5 linked regions of the Homo sapiens genome follow. The protein of the gene in region 5 purifies or fractionates together with the protein of the main gene of each other region. This does not show direct contact. Each region holds a gene or a part of one and is shown on either strand. Other genes may lie near its edges.

Region 1 (3,518 bases), on a different chromosome or scaffold from region 5:
CCCACCTTGGCATCTTCTCCTCCAACAGGGAGGAAGACCTCCAGCCATCTTCTGCAGCCAGCTTTTCTGTCTGATTCAAGAGCCGGGGTGAGGCTGGGGCCATGGAATTGAAGATAGGTCTCTCTGCAGGCAGTGGGTGGGGTCTCAGCAGCTCAGAGCCAGGCCTAAGGGACACCAGGATTGGGTCTGGAAGGGAAGCAGAGCCATGTGAGGACGGGGTGCCCACGGGAAGATGGGCATATGGGGCACCAATGACACAGGCAGGCATGCAGAGACACTCAGAGCCATGCAGACCCATGCAACATGTGTGGGAAATACAGCTACCTGTGGACAGGCCCAAACCCACAGAGCAGGGCTAACAGATACAAATACCCACGTGTGCCACCCTCAGAGTGAAGCTTGGTTTGTAGGAACAGCACGGTGCGTGCACTGAAGCAGCCCCCAAACACTTCAAACTCACATGAGACCTTGCCCTTGCTTTGTAAGGACAGTCCCACCCACACTGCACCCCACCATCTACCAAGTTCATTAGTTCTCTCACCACCTCCAGAAAGCAGGGGAGGCTGGCATCATGGCTACAGATGAGGAAACTGAGGCCCAGGGAGCAAAACCTACTTAAGGTTATCCAAAACTAGGACTCGGCCCTGGTCCGCTGCCCCCCAAGGCAGAGGCTCTTCCAGTACACCAGGAGGCCCGCTCAGCCACTGGGGTGGGGGTGAAGGAAGTTTGTGGGGGTGGAAGGGAGAGGGAGCAGCTGGGGTGACTGCTTCTGCTGGGCTGGCCCCCGTGTTGGCAGGAGCGGGAGAGTGGCTCAGGACAGGCAGAGTGGGCAGAGGGACCTGGGTGGGGGTTGCTGCCTGGAGGGCTTCTTGGGTCAAGAAGAATTGCAAAAGGCCAGGCCCAGTGGCTCGCACCTGTAATCCCAGCACTTCGGGAGGCCGAGGCAGGTGGATCACTTGAGGTCAAGAGTTTGAGACCAGCCTGGCCAACATGGCAAAACCCCCATCTCTACTAAAAATACGAAAAATTAGCTGGGCATGGTGGCACGTGCCTGTAGTCCCAGCTACTCAGGAGGCTGAGGCATGAGAATCACTTGAACCTGGGGGTGGGGTGGAGGTTGCAGTGAGCTGAGATTGTACCACTGCACTCCAGCCTGGGCAACAAAGCGAGACTCTGTCTCAAAAAAAAAAAAAAAAAAAAAAAAAAAAGAATTGCAGAGGTAGGGGTGGGGAACAGGGACAGGGAGTCTGGCTGAGGTGGTCCAGGCACCCCACATAGCCCCAGAGTGTAAAGAAGCTTTCCGTGGGGCAAAGTCCCTTGAGTTGGAGTTTTCTGAGCTCTTGGGTCAAGCCCCCTGACTTTCTGGACCTGTATGTGACCATGCTACCCACTGGGGACTGAAGGTCAAGGGCATGGCTTCTGAGGTCATGAGAGAAGAAAAATCCAGGCCCAACCCCTCTCAATTGCTTGGGGCCACTGGGCACGCCATGTTCCTGTCACATTTGCCTGGGCCTCTTCTCTGCCTTCCTCACCTCGATTCATCCCGCTGAGCCACTCCTGGGCCGTCAGGGAGGGCTGGGCCCCTGCTGTTGGAGGGTATATGTCCTCTTGGTAGGATTCTGACTGCAGGAGAAATCCAGACAGTGAGGAGGGTGGTAGGGTAGGCTGCTCAGATGGGAAAGGCCCTTAGACCTGGGAGTCCAGGCTCTCACCAACCCCTGCTGAATTGAGGAAACTGAGGCCCAGAGAACAAAGGGACTTGCCCGAGGTCACGCAGCAGCTCAAGAACAGAGGTGGACCGAGACCCAGGACTCCTGACGCCCACTGATGTCACACTGGCTGTGAGAAAGGCCGCTCTGTGGCTGCCCCATGAACGTGGGCTCCAGGCTCTGGTGCCCGACAGCCCTGGGTCTGTCTTCTCCAGGACAGGTTCCCCACCTGCCTCCCATGCGGTCCCGACTGCCCTTACCCGCCGGGGCACAATCATGGAGATGGGCTCGATGAGGCTTTTGGTTGTGATCAGCTTGTAGAAGCGGAAGATCTCGCAGGAGGACACGTCGAGTCCTCTCTTTGGCATGACACCTGAAGGCAGACAGGGAGGGCCAAGAGGTTCTGGCTAGGCTGGGGCCACAGTGTTAGGGCCAAAGCCAGGCTGCACACCTGGACCTGAACAGAGACCAGTCTCCTCCCAGAAAACAGCTCAGGGACAAATACCGACACTGGGCTGGGCCCTATGTTGGGAAATGGAGTTGAATTAATCAGACTCTTCACCTTCAAAGATTTAAATTATTTTAGCTGAATTTTTTTCTTTTTGACACAAGGTCTCACTCTGTTGCCCAGGCTGGAGTGCAGTGGCACAATCATAGCTCACCGCAGTCTCACACTCCTGGGCTCAAGCGATCCTCCTGCCTTAGCGTCCCAAGTAGCTGGGACCACAGGTATGCACCTCAATTTTTTTATTTATTTGTAGAGACAGGAGTCTCACTTTGTTGCCCAGGCTAGGCTCGAATTCCTAGGCTCAAGTGATCCTCCAGCTTTGGCCTCCCAAAGTGCTGGATTAGCTGAACTTTTATAGGCAGTTTGCTCTGCTTAAGGTTCCCCATCTCCATCCCCACAGCTCCTGTGACCCAAATGCTCTTAATCAAACCGCTCCAGATTCCTTTTGAGTAGGGTTAGCAGGGTGCATCTTTCTCCAGTCCCTTACTTTTAATCTAGCCATGTCTTTATGTTTAAAGTGGGTTTCTTGTAGATTACAGAAATATAGCTGTGTTTTTAATCCTCAAGCACACTTAGAAAGGAACTGAGGACTGCTTCCTAGAGGCTCTTCTAGGTCAGCCCTTTCCATCTCTGCTCTTGTGGTAACTGCTTAACCTTGACCTAGAACACATCCCTCTCTCCCCTGCTGGGCTCTGCTTCCTCTTTCAGTTCCTCCAATGTTGCCTCCTCTGAGAAGCCTTCCCTGACTTCCTCCTTTGTGCTGTTGCACACGTCAAGTACAGCCCCCACCAAGTCAGAGTGTTGCTATGCTGTCTCTCCTCCCATCTGACTCATCCCTGTCTCCCCAGACCCCGCACTGAAGCCCTGACCCTGATTCTCCCACCTCGGCCTCCCGAAGTGCTGGGATTACAGGCATGAACTTCAGTGTCCCTCACTTACCGATCCCCTTCTGTGGGTTATAGGAGCGGTACTCAGTCAGGTAGCTCAGGTGAGGCTTGTCGGCGCTCACCTCGTAGTAGCGGATGTTGCCATCTCCCTGAGGAGGAGGAGAAGGAAGAGGAGGGTGAGATTCAGAGCTGGAGCTCATCAGCTCATCAGCAACCCAGCCATGCAGCAAAGACCTGGCTTTTTTTGATGATCGGCAAACCCATCTCACTCAAGGGAACACCAGGAAACTGGGGGCCCTGTCATCAAGGCAGGAGGGTGATGAGGGGATATTCATTTTATTTTAGATTTTATCTTATTTTTTTGAGACAGGGTCTCACTTTATTGCCCAGGCTGGAGAGCAGTAGTGCAATCAC
Region 2 (3,518 bases), on a different chromosome or scaffold from region 5:
ATTTCTTTCCTATATGTATATCCTAATTCAGTAAATATAAAAGCTTTTTTAAAAAATAATGTGTCATGAACTATAATTAATTTTCTATATACAGGCAAAAGTATCCTAAGACTAGATAATACTTTTATCAAGCATTTAAGGCACATAATTTATCAGTTAGGTGTAATAAGTTTAGGTCCATAAAATAGTATCATAACTTTATGTTTTATTGAATGTGTTTTGTGCCTGAATTTTCTTATGCTTTATTTAAAAACTACTTTTTGCTTTTTATTAAACTTTAAAAAGAAGGTTTAGTGAGAAAATATCTATTTTTATTGTTGTTTTGATGCTAATAATATATTAGCTAAAGGATGAAAGGGATAAAAAAGTTCTCAGATTGAAATAGACCATAAGGAATCAAATAGGCTTCAGGCTGCCATGGACTTTTAGACCCTCAAGTCTGAAGTTTGGGATGTAAAAACATCCATGAGTACGTGCTAATTTGTGTTAACTTTAAAATTATAAATTAATTGCATGCTTGTTTGTTAAGCTAAAATATTTATGCAAGAAACATAAGAATATAGTATATTTTTAGCAAAATGAAAAATCAGACTTTAAAACCAAGTTCTTTTATGATTTGAAAAGAACTTTCCTGCATTGCCATGTCCAGACAATGAAATACTGGGTGGTGTCACACTGACATCTTCTTTAGGTAGCTTTAATGTGGTTGTTTTCCTTTTCAATTTCCTTAGTTATTTAACTGGGACTCAAGTCAATTGGTAGCTGTTGGTGGCTGTTGGTGGCTTGCCTGAACTTAGTTTATTTTTGTTAATGTTTTATCTATTTAAGTTGCTTTGAAAGTATTTATAGGGAAAGGAAAAATCACAGTTTTGGTCTCATGCTAATTTTTATTTATGTGTCACCTGATGAAAACTTGGAGGTATAAAACAATCAGTTCAGTCTTAAATATAATTGTTTATTTGCCAATAAGAATCAGACTTTATATCAGAAGAGGAGAAACAAATCTTACTTTTATTCCTGGAACTTAAACAGTGCACCTGCATAGAGAAAGATAATAAAAATAATTATGTGAAATGGAACATACTTTTTGGTATTTATTTTAAGCATACATGAACATGTCTGTACAAGAATGTTAAAGTATATGCTAGTTAGTATCACCTATCATTTTAAGAGTTATGACTTGAGAATTCATAATTATCTAGGAATGTCTTGGCTCATGTTTCTCTGTCGTGATTTTTTTTTTCTAGTATGGTTTCTCTGCCATAAAACTTACCTAAGCTAAACATTTATGTACTCTGTATCCTGAATGAATACATTCTTGTGTAGCTTCTCTTTTGTTCAATAAGATTATAATTTCATCAATAATTTACCATGGAAATAGGAAGCCTGAAATTTTAGAAAATGAAAATTTGTGATTGGTGCTTAGAAAGTAATTAAAGAATACTATTCAAAAGTATAATTTTTTTTTGCCCCAAAGGATAAAATAGTAAGGCATAATTTGTAAAACAACAAGAAGAATTGGAACTTGAACAAAGAAAAATGTATCTTAAAGTATATTTTTGCACTTTGGGAAATGATAGCTTCCAGACCCCCATTGGCCCGTGCAAGCAGGTTTCTAAACAGGGTCATTTAAAAACCTTTCAGGTCTTATTTTAAAAACTCTAACTCACATTTTATGAAAACATTAAAATACACCCAATCTTCTATTAAATATATTTTTCACTGTAAATACTTTGAAAGGATTAATATGACTTTGCTTTTGAAGTTACTTTCCCAAGAACAATTCATTTCATTTACTACTGTCTGATTTTCGGCAACCAGCATGAAGCCTTGGAAATTCTTTAGGATGGAGAGAATCTAGCACACAATTTCCTTCTAAAATTAATGAAATTCTTATGAATACTAAATAGAAAAATCAGCATAGATTTCATTTTCATATATTTAATTGTAAACTTGTTAATTTTGATCTTATTTTTTCATATTTTAGAAGGAATACTTATCTTTAGGTCAAAAATATGAATTGAATCCCTTAAACATTTGAGGGCCTTTAGCACTGCTAGTATCACTCACTGTATAAAGCTGCCCTTTTCCTGCCAACTCGCATCCTGTATACCTAGTCCTAACTTTCATTGTTTCTCGTCTCCTTTGTTGCAAAGAGTTTCTCCTGTAGCTTTAATCACAATTGCCACAACTTTTTACCCGGGATTGCTTGGATTAGATATAAAATCAACATACATTTTTTTCTGGGTAACTTTTGAAAGAACATAGGTGTTCTTTCTTAGAGTAAAGATATGTGGGGTGTGAATGATTTTCTCACCTTATGTGCCTAGGGTGTAACTGAGGAGTATGACTTATAACGAATTCTATATAGCTGAATTTGACCCTGAAAAACAGCATCATGTAGGGTGTCATGCCTCAGTGGTGTTCTCTGTGCTTGGAATTCCAAAGAGCAGAGTATGGGTCCCTCAGGGACATTCTTTCTGGAAATGTTTGCTGTCTTTTAGGACAGAACAGGCTATTACCACTTCACAGAGAATAGTAAATGCAGCAGCTTCAACTCATTGAACGTCTACTCTGGATCATGCATTGTACTAGAAAAGTTTTTTTTTAATTTTTTAACTCAAACTCCCATTTGACATAATAAAAGTTAAAAAACTTATTTTAATTTCATTTACAATTTTAAAAGGCCTTAAGTATTTGCAACTGTGACAAAGCCAACACAATGGCAATTTTAGAATGTTCTTCTTTCAGACTGCATGGCTCTCCCTCCTTGTGACCCCCTTCCTCACCCACAACATGCCAGTCCCCAGATGCCTATGTGTGCTCTTCTTATGGAGCAAAAGGTACAAGGAAGCATGATTTTCTGTTGAGAATCGCTATGCTAGATCCTGTACATAGATCATCTCACTGAACAAGATGAAACTTAGAAGTTCAGAGAAATTAAAGACTTGACCCAGTTCACACAACTATTAGCAACAGGGTTGAGACTTGGATGAAGTCCCCTAAGGGTTTGTGACTCCTGGCATCTGCAACACCTGGCACCTGCCACACCATCAGATGTAATATCATTGGACATTCATGAGGAATAATTTGGAGAATTCATGTAAGTTCATGTAGTCTGAGACAACCCCAACTGCTATTTTGAGATCAATTTGAGTTGAGGAGAAATTCTGCAAAAAAAATTACCCAAGTGGATCCCTGAAGAATTCCATGGTGGTAGCAACCGTCTGTATTGCAGAAACAACATCATGAATTTGAAGATAATCTCCACTTTGTTACTGCACCCTGGGTTCTCTAGGAAGAAATAGGCCTATGTGTTGAAAAGTCTTGTACATGTTCTTGATACATACTCTGATAATCACACTTTGCATTCCAAAAAAATCAGAAAATGGTTTTAAACAAATTAATGCACTTATGGGACCAATGATGCATAATACTTAAAATTAGGACAGTTTTGAAAAAAAATAGAATGTATGATTGTTCTAAGAATTTACAGAGGCCTTAATGGAAAGAATGGG
Region 3 (3,518 bases), on a different chromosome or scaffold from region 5:
TTTTATCACAATAAAAAAAATTTGGGCTGGGCGCGGTGGCTCACTCCTGTAATCCCAGCACTTTGGGAGGCCGAGGCGGGTGGATCACAAGGTCAGGAGTTTAAGACCAGCCTGGCCAAGACTGTGAAACCCCGTCTCTACTAAAAATACAAAAAATTAGCCGGGCGTGGTGGCGGGAGCCTGTAATCCCAGCTACTCGGGAGGCTGAGGCAGGAGAATTGCTTGAACTCGGAGGGTGGAGCTTGCAGTGAGCCGAGATTGCACCACTACAGCTTGGGTGACAGAGCAGGACTCTATCTCAAAAAAAAAAAAAAAAATTGAAAAAGAAAACATACAAATACAACAACTACACAGACGTGAAGCAGGAGCGCAATGTGTGAGCAGCTGTTGGCCTCACGGGTTGCAGGACCTCAGAGCTCTTGTAACTTTTTGGTGAGTTTAAAATTATTTTGGGCCGGGCGCGGCGGCTCACACCTGTAATCCCAGCACTTTGGGAGGCCGAGGCGGGTGGATCACGAGGTCAGGAGATCGAGACCATCCTCGCTAACACGGTGAAACCCCGTCTCTACTAAAAATACAAAAAAAAAAAATTAGCCGGGCATGATGGTGGGCGCCTGTAGTCCCAGCTACTTAGGAGGCTGAGGCAGGAGAATGGCGCGAACCTGGGAGGGGGAGGTTGCAGTGAGCGGAGATTGCGCCACTACACTTCCAGCCTGGGTGACAGAGCGAGACTCCGTCTCAAAAAAAAAAAACAACAAAAAAAAGAATGCCGGGCACGGTGGCTCACGCCTGTAATCCCAGCACTTTGGGAGGCCGAGGCGGGTGGATCATGAGGTCAGGAGTTTGAGACCAGCTTGGCCAACAGGGTGAAACCCCGTCTCTACTAAAAATACAAAAATTAGCCAGAAGTGGTGGCGGGCGCCTGTAGTCCCAGCTCCTTGGGAGGCTGAGGCAGGAGAATGGCGTGAACCCCGGGAAGCAGAGGTTGCAGTGAGCTGGGATCACATCACTGCACTCCAGCCTGGGTGACAGAGTGAGACTCTGTCTCACAAAAAACAAAAGAAAAGAAAAGAAAGCAGCAGGCTGGCTGTGGCCCCAGAGACACATACAGGGCCACACGGTGGCAGAGTAGAATCCAGTGCAGTTCTCGGCACCGTATCATTTGTGCAAAGGAAAGACACATGTAAACAAAATGACGATACACACACAGCCAAACAGTAGACATGTGCGCGGCCTTGTGGTGCCCAGAGGAAGAGGAGAGGGGCAGCCTCGCTGCAGCCATGGCCGTGACCGTGTGAGGCGATGGACAGCCCTGTGCCCGAGACACCTGCACCTTTGAGGGAGACGTAGTCAACCAGCTGGGCCCCCGCCCTCCTGAGCTCTGTCCTGCCTGGGGGCCTCTGCGCTGGCTGTTCCCTCTGCCAGGTGCCTCCCTGACGTCCACGCGCTGGTGCACACACAGCCGACCCCACACCAAGCATGCACCACACCCCCCGGGCACCTACAGAGGCTTTCCCGGTGCTCTCCTCGGCCGCCGCCACGCGTGCCACCTTGGAGATGATGGGCGCCACGTTGGTGGGGCCGTAGAGCTGGACCCTGGGCAGGCAGTTCTGGTAGGCCTCCACCACGCCCTGGATGCCTGTGGGGGGCAGGGGGTGAGCCCGGCCCCCCTGCACTCCCCTCCCCAGGCCTGCCTCGAGCTCCTACCTTCACACTCATCGTCCTCAGGGTTGAAATTGATGGCAAAGTCATGGGACACCTGGGTGGGAACAAGAGGGCTCAGTCAGCTGCTCGTTGCAACACACCCCACTGGCCCCATGTCCCTCGGTCAGCTGCTCCCCCCGTCCCCAGCCCCCATGTCCCCCAGTCAGCTGCTCCCCCCGTCCCCGCCCTCATGTCCCCCGCCTACTAAAGAGGGCTCGGTCAGCTGCTCCCCCCGTCCCCGGCCCCCATGTCCCCCAGTCAGCTGCTCCCCCCGTCCCCGGCCCCCATGTCCCCCAGTCAGCTGCTCCCCCGACCTGGCCCCCATGTCCCCCACCTACTGAGAGAGGTAGGCTTGGAGTTTCTAGGGGAAGCCAAACCCATGGGTGACCATGTTCTGCAGAGTCATGAAACAGAGAGGGAGGCAGACCTCCCTGGATCCAGCAGTGCCTGAGGCTTACATTAGCCAATAAATCCCCACACACCATTTTTTCTGCTGAAGCCAGTTGAAGTTTTTTGTTGTTTTCTTTTTTCTTTTTTAAAACAGAGTCTTGCTCTACAGGCCAGGCTGGACTGCAGTGGTGCGATCTCAGCTCAGTGCAACCTCTGCCTCCCGGGTTCAAGCAATTCTCTTGCTTCAGCCTCCCGAGTAGCTGGGATTACAAGCATGTGCCACCACGCCCAGCTAATTTTTGTATTTTTGGTAGAGATGGGGTTTCACCATGATGGCCAGGCTGGTCTGGAACTCCTGACCTCAGGTAATCGGCCCGCCTCGGCCTCCCAAAGTGCTGGGATTACAGGCGTGAGCCACCACGCCTGGCCGAAGCTAGCTGAATTGTTATGTGCAATAGAGGATTCCACACTAACGTCCTTCCCTATCTCCTGAAGGAACACGGAGTTGGCCTCCAGACACCCCTCAAGCTAACAAGTCCTAGGAGGCCAAAGGCCAGCCTCTCTGGCTAGAAGGCTGGGGTTCCCGCTTTGCACCCCAATCCCATCCTACAGTCTCCGGTTCCCAGCAGGCAGCCAGGGCTCCCTGGGCCAGGCCGTCCTCTGCCTGGGAGGGCACGAGAAGGGCACAGCTCTGAGGTCTCAGGTTCTGGGCTCTCCTACCTCATACTTGGGAGGGATCCGGGCTCCAAACCCCAAAGCGGAAAACCTCTTGTCACTGGAAGAGAGGCAGGAGGTCACCAGGAGGCCCTGACCTCTTGTGGCTGCAACAGGGGCCACTTCTAGGGAGACATGACTGGCGCCCAAAAGACTGGGGGTGCCCAGGCCTGGTACCACGGCAGTAAGCACCTGCCAGAGGTGGGGAACCGAGGCTCAGGGCAGCAGAGGCACAGGCCTGTGTGCAAGGGGACACGGTCCTGCCGCCCGCGAGCCTGCCTCCCAACTCCACGTTTGTGTACATGCTGTCCCCCTGCAGACGCCTCCCCGGGGGCTCTCAGACCACGGGAGGGGTCCTGTGGGGCCAAGGAACCCACTGTGGCCCTCACCAACCCAGAAAGAGAGGTCTGTAGGGTAGGGAGCTCAGGGCATCCTCTCCCAAGCCCCAGGCCAGGGGTCTGTGTTGTGGTAAGAAGCTCAGAGCACAGGGTTTTGTGCCGGGCCCTCCCTGGTAAAGCATACGCGGGTGAGCCCCAAGCCTCTGTGACTTCGGTTTGCTATTCTGGCAAAGCGGGACACAGACGTCCCCCCAGGACCATGTGCAGAGTCTATGCGGCAGCCTCCAGTAGGGCTACCCAGCCCTTCCTCGCAGAGTCTCTTTTTTTTGAGACGGAGTCTTGCTCTGTCACCCAGGCTTGAGTACAAAGGTG
Region 4 (3,518 bases), on a different chromosome or scaffold from region 5:
CAGGCGCCTGTAACCACGCCTGGCTAATTTTTTGTATTTTTAGTAGAGATGGGGTTTCACCGTGTTAGCCAGGACTGTCTCGATCTCCTGACCTGGTGATCCGCCCACCTTGGCCTCCCAAAGTGCTGGGATTACAGGCGTGAGCCACCACACCCAGCCTAATTAAGGTTTATATAGTGAAAAGCTAAACACTGAGATTAGTTCTGGTGAGGGATCCCTTGGTGACCAAAAAGCTGTCACCTGAGCAACTTAACAGCGATGCTTTTTTTTTTTTTTTTTTGAGATGGAGTTTCACTCTTGTTGCCCAGGCTGGAGTGCAATGGTGTGATCTCTGCTCACCACAACCTCCGCCTCCCAGGTTCAAGCGATTCTCCTGTCTCAGCCTCTGGAGTAGCTGGGATTACAGGCATGCACCACCACACCTGGCTAATTTTGTATTTTTGGTAGAGACAGGGTTTCTCCATGTTGGTCAGGCTGGTCTTGAACTCCCAACCTCAGGTGATCCACCCACCTCGGCCACCCAAAGTGCTGGGATTATAGGTGTGAGTCACTGCACCTGGCCAACAGCAATACTTTCTTTCCTTTCTTTTCCTCTACCCTCTATGCCAGGACTCCTTAGAAATAAAATATTAAGGAAAGTGAGTTATGAAGATGATAAGGGCAATGCAGACTACAGAATTATGGGTGTCTTTGAACTGCTGCTTCCTGTAAAATGCCAAAAACTTCTTTGGGCACATGATGGTTCCCAGCTTGAGAGATCTGTGAGCTCCAGTTGGAATGTTTCATGGCAACTAGTTTTCTTAATGTTCTTTTTCAGATATATGAAATCAGGGCATCTTTTCAGGAGGATGCTTCCTATTCAGAGGTTGCAAAGCACTTATGTAAGCCTTAGGTGACTGCATGGGTGGAAGTGCACAGAGTTCACCATCTGAAGCTTAATCTGGGGCCAGCAGTTCTGATACCTGTTGTATTTGCGTTACAAATGAACTTGAGCACCGAGGCCCTCATGCCCACTGTCCTGTAAGTGGGCGCTCGGCCTGGATTGCAGCTCTGCCCTGTCTGTAGTGAGGGCTGCCTGCTGCTCCTTTACTTCTCTTCCTGTATTCCTAGGATTGACTTTTGCTTCCTGCTGTAACTACTCTGTTTCTTCTTCCCAGCTCGAGCCTTGGGCACAGAAGTGATTCAACTCTTCCCCGAGAAAGGAAATATGGGAAAGATCCTCCCCGAATACCTCAGCAACTGGACCATGGAAAAAGTCAGACGAGGTAGAGAGACTGTTTCTATATGCTGCCACTCTATTTCCTTTGAGTGTGACCTAAGGCAAACTTCGCTTCTATAGGAACCCCCTTGACATAAGCCCTATCACCTGGCCTGTAAAATGTTTCCACCATTCTCCAGTCAGCTAAGTTCATCTAGGTGTTCTGAATCAGATGCCCCAAATTCCTGGAAGTGCTGAAAATGAACCATGGGTGTAGGTTCTTGCAGCTCTCCAAAACTGCCTGTGTACTGATAATTGGTTTTACCGTGGAGGAGACCGCTGGTCAGCTTTCCTACTTCCCATGAAAGTGATAGCCTTGTAGGCTCACTCTCAGGTCTTGTTTGCCTTTACAGAGGGGGTTAAGGTGATGCCCAATGCTATTGTGCAATCCGTTGGAGTCAGCAGTGGCAAGTTACTTATCAAGCTGAAAGACGGCAGGAAGGTAAGGAAGGAAAAGATAGTCTGCCAAGAGGCCTTCCAGTTCTCCACTCCCCTTGCCTCATTTTTACTCCTTCATTTGACACCAGTAGATTAGTTTTCCTGGCAGTTGCCATTAACCTGATATAATTTTCCGAATTAACCATCCCTCCATTAAAACAGAATGATGAGAGCCAGAGTAGGCTCCTGTGAACCACTTTCCCTTAGCCCCATTCTATCTGTCTCACAGAGTTTTGAGTCCTGGCTAGGGTGGCAGATTTCTGTTCGAATGACATGGGGGATGTGCATGGGATGGGGTGGTGGAGGCTTATGAAATAGAACTTAAAATCCATTTATCAGAGGTAAGTTAACCCATGATTTTTTAAAGTCCCAATTCTTAATGGCATGAAGGGCCATTGTTACGCCTGTAGGCATAAATGGAAACTGTGGTAATTGACTGAATTATTTCTTTTTTGCCTCAGGTAGAAACTGACCACATAGTGGCAGCTGTGGGCCTGGAGCCCAATGTTGAGTTGGCCAAGACTGGTGGCCTGGAAATAGACTCAGATTTTGGTGGCTTCCGGGTAAATGCAGAGCTACAAGCACGCTCTAACATCTGGGTGGTAAGTGTGCTACAGCATGACCAGGCATAATTCATTCTCCCTAGCCTGTGAACAAGTCTGCCCGGTGGTGTGCTAAAGCTCATCAACAGCCTAACCAAATAGGGTCAGAGTGTTTGGAGGCTGAGGGTACAGAATAGAAATGTGTGAACTGCTTGATTCAGAAGACCAGGTATGGCCTCATCTGCAAGCTAGTGGCAGATGAAATGAACAGTGTGCATGCCTGCAGGGGTAGAGCTCTTCCGGTTCTACTTATTGGCAGCAGCTACTGGCATAACCCCTGGTGGGCATGCACATAAGCCTTCAGATGGATCTGCTGTTCCCTTTGCTCAAACTTGAATCCGGAGGATGGAGGATGAAGCAATGTTATAACCTGTTCCCTAGAAAGGAAAATTACTCTGTTTTCATTTTCCTTGAGTACTATTTTTAGCTGTTTTTTACAATCTATTATGACATAAACAAGACTATAGTATGTAGGAACCATGAGGTAATTTCCCCATTGCTAGTTACAAGTGTATTGTGTTTGTTTATGGACTCTGCAACTAAGGACGTAGGTACCTTGGAGGAATTTTTTTCCCCCTCCAAACCTTGTTTTTTTTTTTTTTTTTAAAAAAAAAAAGATGTACTGGATCTTTTTAACCTGTTATAAAAGTAATACGTGGGCCAGGAGAAGTGGCTTACACCTGTAATCCCAGCACTTTGGGAGGCTGAGGCAGGTGGATCACTTGAGATCAGGAGTTTGAGACCAGCCTGGCTAACATGGTGAAACCCTGTCTCTCCTAAAAATACAAAAATTAGCCGGGTGTGGTGGCACAGGCCTGTAATCCCAGCTACTTGGGAGGCTGAGTGAGGCAGGAGAATCACTTGAACTAAGGAGGCAGAGGCTGCAGTGAGTGGAGATCATGCCACTGCCCTCCAGCCTGGGCAACAACAGAGCAAGACTCAGTCTCAAAAAAAAAAAAAAAGTAATATGTGGTCAATGTAGAAGACAGACAAGAAGGAGAGAGGAGAGGAAAGTCACCTGCAGCAACCATTAATATTTTGGTGTATTTCCTTCCCTGTGTTTCCTTGCATGTAGGTTTTATTGTTGGTTTGTTTTATTCGTGGCAAGCATACTATATATAATATTCTGCTCTTTTCCACTTAACACCATAAATGTAAGCATTTTCTATGTTGCTTCAGACTTTGTAAACAGTTTAATGACTATATATTCCATTAAGCGA
Region 5 (3,518 bases):
GATTTTCGACAAAAGCACTGCATACTTTAATAAATTAAGGGTTCTCTTTTCAACAAATGGTGCTGGAAACGAGGTATCTGTATGAGGAAAAATGGAAAAAACGTGACTACTACCTCATACCATCTAGAAATAGCAATTCCAAATAGCATATATCTTAAAACTATAAAACTTCTTGAAGAAAATGCAGGTGAAAATCTTTGCTGCCTGGGCTAGGTGAAAAATTTTAAGACAGGACACAAAAAGCACTGACTAGAGAAAAAAAATGGTAACAGAATTAAAACATTTGGTTCTAGACTGCGCATGGTGGCTCACGCCTGTCATCTCAGCGCTTTGGGAGACCAACGAGGGTGGATCACCTGACGTCAGGTCGAGACCGGCCTGGCCAACATGGTGAAACCCCGTCTTTACTAAAAATACAAAAAATTAGCCGGCCATGGTGGTGGGAGCCTGTAATCCGAGCTACTTGGGAGGCTGAGAGAGGATAATCGCTTGAATCTGGGAGGTAGAGGTTGCAGTGAGCTGAGATCAGGCCATTGCATTCCAGCCTGGGCAACGAGAGCAAACAATGTCTCAAAAAAAAAAAAGAAAAAGAAAAGAAACCCCCCACCCCCACCAAAAAAAACAACATTTGGTTCTTCAAATGGTACTGTCTAGGAAACAGAAAGGCAAGGCACAGGATAGGAATATCGTGTTGGCAAGTACACCTGATAAAGGACTTATACCCAGAACAAACAACAGGCTCTTACAACTCAGGAATAACACAAACACTTAAACAAATGGGCAAAAAATCTGAATGTTCATTTCACAAAACAAGAAATACAAGTGGCAAATAAGTACAACAAAAAGATGAGCAGCATCGTTACTCAGCAGGGAAGTGCAAATTAACATCACAATAAAATACCACCCTGTAGTGGCCAGGATAAAACTCAAAGGCCAACCCTTGGCGAGGCTGTGGGACAACCTTGCTGGGGTGTCAAGGGGGACAGCCACTCTGGAAGAGATTGGTGCTTACCACAGAACCCAGCAGTTCCAATCCCAGGTATGCACCCAAGAGGAAAAAAAACATGTGTCCACACAAAGTTAGGTCTACACATGCTTACAGCTTTATTCCTAATAGCCCGGAACTGGAAACAAATAAAATAAACATCCATCAACAGAAAGGATAAACAAAACTGACAAGCTCACTGGTGGACCACCACACAGCAACAAGCAGACGTGGCACATGCAGCAGAACTGCTGAATCTTGAGAGCGTTTCAGTGAGGAAAGGAGACCGGAAACAAATGAGTTGTGTGCTGTGACTCCACTGATGATAATGATGGGCACTAGGACACTCAGAGCTGCTCGGCTGACGATGATGGGCACTAGGACACTCAGAGCTGCTCGGCTGACGATGACGGGCACTAGGACACGCAGAGCTGCTCGGCTGACGATGATGGGCACTAGGACACGCAGAGCTGCTCGGCTGACGATGATGGGCACTAGGACACTCAGAGCTGCTCGGCTGATGATAATGGGCACTAGGACACTCAGCTGCCCGGCTGATGATAATGGGCACTAGGACACACAGAGCTGCTCGGCTGATGATAATGGGCACTAGGACACTCAGAGCTGCTCGGCTGATGATAATGGGCACTAGGACACTCAGAGCTGCCCGGCTGATGATGAGGGGCACTAGGACACTCAGAGCTGCCCGGCTGATGATGATGGGCACTAGGACACTCAGAACTGCCCGGCTGATGATGAGGGGCACTAGGACACTCAGAGCTGCTCGGCTGATGATAATGGGCACTAGGACACGCAGAGCTGCTCGGCTGATGATAATGGGCACTAGGACACTCAGAGCTGCTCGGCTGATGATAATGGGCACTAGGACACACAGAGCTGCTCGGCTGATGATGGGCACTAGGACACTCAGAACTGCCCGGCTGATGATGAGGGGCACTAGGACACTCAGAGCTGCTCGGCTGATGATGATGGGCACTAGGACACGCAGAGCTGCCCGGCTGACGATGATGGGCACTAGGACACTCAGAGCTGCTCGGCTGATGATGATGGGCACTAGGACACACAGAACTGCTTGGCTGATGATCATGGGCACTAGGACACTCAGAACTGCCCGGCTGATGATGAGGGGCACTAGGACACTCAGAGCTGCTCGGCTGATGATAATGGGCACTAGGACACGCAGAGCTGCCCGGCTGACGATAATGGGCACTAGGACACACAGAACTGCCCGGCTGACGATGATGGGCACTAGGACACACAGAACTGCCCGGCTGACGATGATGGGCACTAGGACACACAGAGCTGCTCGGCTGACGATGATGGGCACTAGGACACTCAGAGCTGCTCGGCTGACAATAATGGGCACTAGGACACACAGAACTGCCCGGCTGACGATGATGGGCACTAGGACACTCAGAGCTGCTCGGCTGATGATGATGGGCACTAGGACAGACAGAACTGCCAGGCTGACGATGATGGGCACTAGGACACTCAGAACTGCCCGGCTGACGATGATGGGCACTAGGACACTCAGAGCTGCTCGGCTGATGATGATGGGCACTAGGACACTCAGAACTGCTCGGCTGATGATCATGGGCACTAGGACACTCAGAGCTGCTCGGTCTACAGTGGCAGAAACCAGGCCGGGGGCTTGAGAGGGCAGCGGGGGTTGCCTGTGGAGCACGGGGACTTTCTAGGGTGCTGGGACTGTTCTCAGTCTTGACTGGCGCAGCGTTACAAGATTATATATGCTTGTCCAAATGTATCAAACTGCACACTTGAAGTGTATGCATTTATTCCATATAAAGTATACCTCAATAGAGGTGATTTTTAAAAAGTAGAAGCCATGATAATGAAGACAGTGTGGTATTGGCACAGGGACTGACAAACAGACCACCTGGAACCAGAGAGAGGGTGAGAAGCAGACCCCTGATGAAGGATACTGAGGGGCTCAGGGGGCAGTTGCATGGGTGAACAGGGGGGCCGGGCTCTTCATGCAGGGTGCAGGGTAGCTGGCCCTCATCTGAGAACAAGGAGAGGGGACAGCACTTCACACTATACACACAACTCAGCCCCAGGTGGATTAATGACCTAAAGGAAAGATTTTAGGTTGAACTGTGAAGCTTCCAGAAAAATTCAGAATACATATTTTGACCTGTTAGTGAGGAAAGACTGCTTAACTAAGACATTAAAAACAGAATCCATAAAGGAAGAGATTGGCAAACTGAACCACATAAAATCCAGAACCTCTGTTCTTCAAAAACAATTTGTAAAACTCAAAAGATAATCACAGACCGAAAAAGCTATTTGCAACACATTTAGCTAACAGAGCTTTATTCAAATCATATAAAGAACTCTGACATGTCAGCCAGAAAAGGCACAGTGGAAATGGTCACCAGACCTGAACAGGCACCTCGCTGGAGGATGACCCAGCAACGACGTGAAAAGATGCTCAAGCTCGCAGGTCACCGGTGGCAGCCCAGGCTGCAAAGCTAGGTCCAGAGCCACCCAC

Evidence for each region.
Region 1: the proteins of THAP4 (region 5) and CORO2A purify together in Homo sapiens (affinity purification with mass spectrometry; 2 studies listed by BioGRID and IntAct, with this or other methods). This does not show direct contact.
Region 2: the proteins of THAP4 (region 5) and SERPINB7 purify together in Homo sapiens (affinity purification with mass spectrometry; one large-scale study listed by BioGRID and IntAct). This does not show direct contact.
Region 3: the proteins of THAP4 (region 5) and CPNE7 purify together in Homo sapiens (affinity purification with mass spectrometry; one large-scale study listed by BioGRID and IntAct). This does not show direct contact.
Region 4: the proteins of THAP4 (region 5) and AIFM1 purify together in Homo sapiens (affinity purification with mass spectrometry; one large-scale study listed by BioGRID and IntAct). This does not show direct contact.

Annotation. Positions count from the first base shown.
Region 1 is NC_000009.12:98,126,638-98,130,155, forward strand, and holds part of CORO2A (coronin-2A), read right to left. Parts: intron 3,254-3,518; coding exon 3,157-3,253; intron 2,083-3,156; coding exon 1,970-2,082; intron 1,624-1,969; coding exon 1,533-1,623; intron 187-1,532; coding exon 1-186.
Region 2 is NC_000018.10:63,778,401-63,781,918, forward strand, and holds part of SERPINB7 (serpin B7), read left to right. Parts: intron 1-3,518. UniProt on the Homo sapiens protein: Might function as an inhibitor of Lys-specific proteases. Might influence the maturation of megakaryocytes via its action as a serpin.
Region 3 is NC_000016.10:89,589,248-89,592,765, reverse strand, and holds part of CPNE7 (copine-7), read right to left. Parts: intron 2,870-3,518; coding exon 2,815-2,869; intron 1,760-2,814; coding exon 1,708-1,759; intron 1,640-1,707; coding exon 1,506-1,639; intron 569-1,505; coding exon of another isoform or gene 566-568; exon of another isoform or gene 1-565. UniProt on the Homo sapiens protein: Calcium-dependent phospholipid-binding protein that may play a role in calcium-mediated intracellular processes.
Region 4 is NC_000023.11:130,134,825-130,138,342, reverse strand, and holds part of AIFM1 (apoptosis-inducing factor 1, mitochondrial isoform AIF precursor), read left to right. Parts: intron 1-302; exon of another isoform or gene 303-817; coding exon of another isoform or gene 818-825; exon of another isoform or gene 826-1,157; coding exon 1,158-1,265; intron 1,266-1,611; coding exon 1,612-1,700; intron 1,701-2,157; coding exon 2,158-2,298; intron 2,299-3,518. UniProt on the Homo sapiens protein: Functions both as NADH oxidoreductase and as regulator of apoptosis.
Region 5 is NC_000002.12:241,588,641-241,592,158, forward strand, and holds part of THAP4 (peroxynitrite isomerase THAP4), read right to left. Parts: intron 1-3,518. UniProt on the Homo sapiens protein: Heme-binding protein able to scavenge peroxynitrite and to protect free L-tyrosine against peroxynitrite-mediated nitration, by acting as a peroxynitrite isomerase that converts peroxynitrite to nitrate.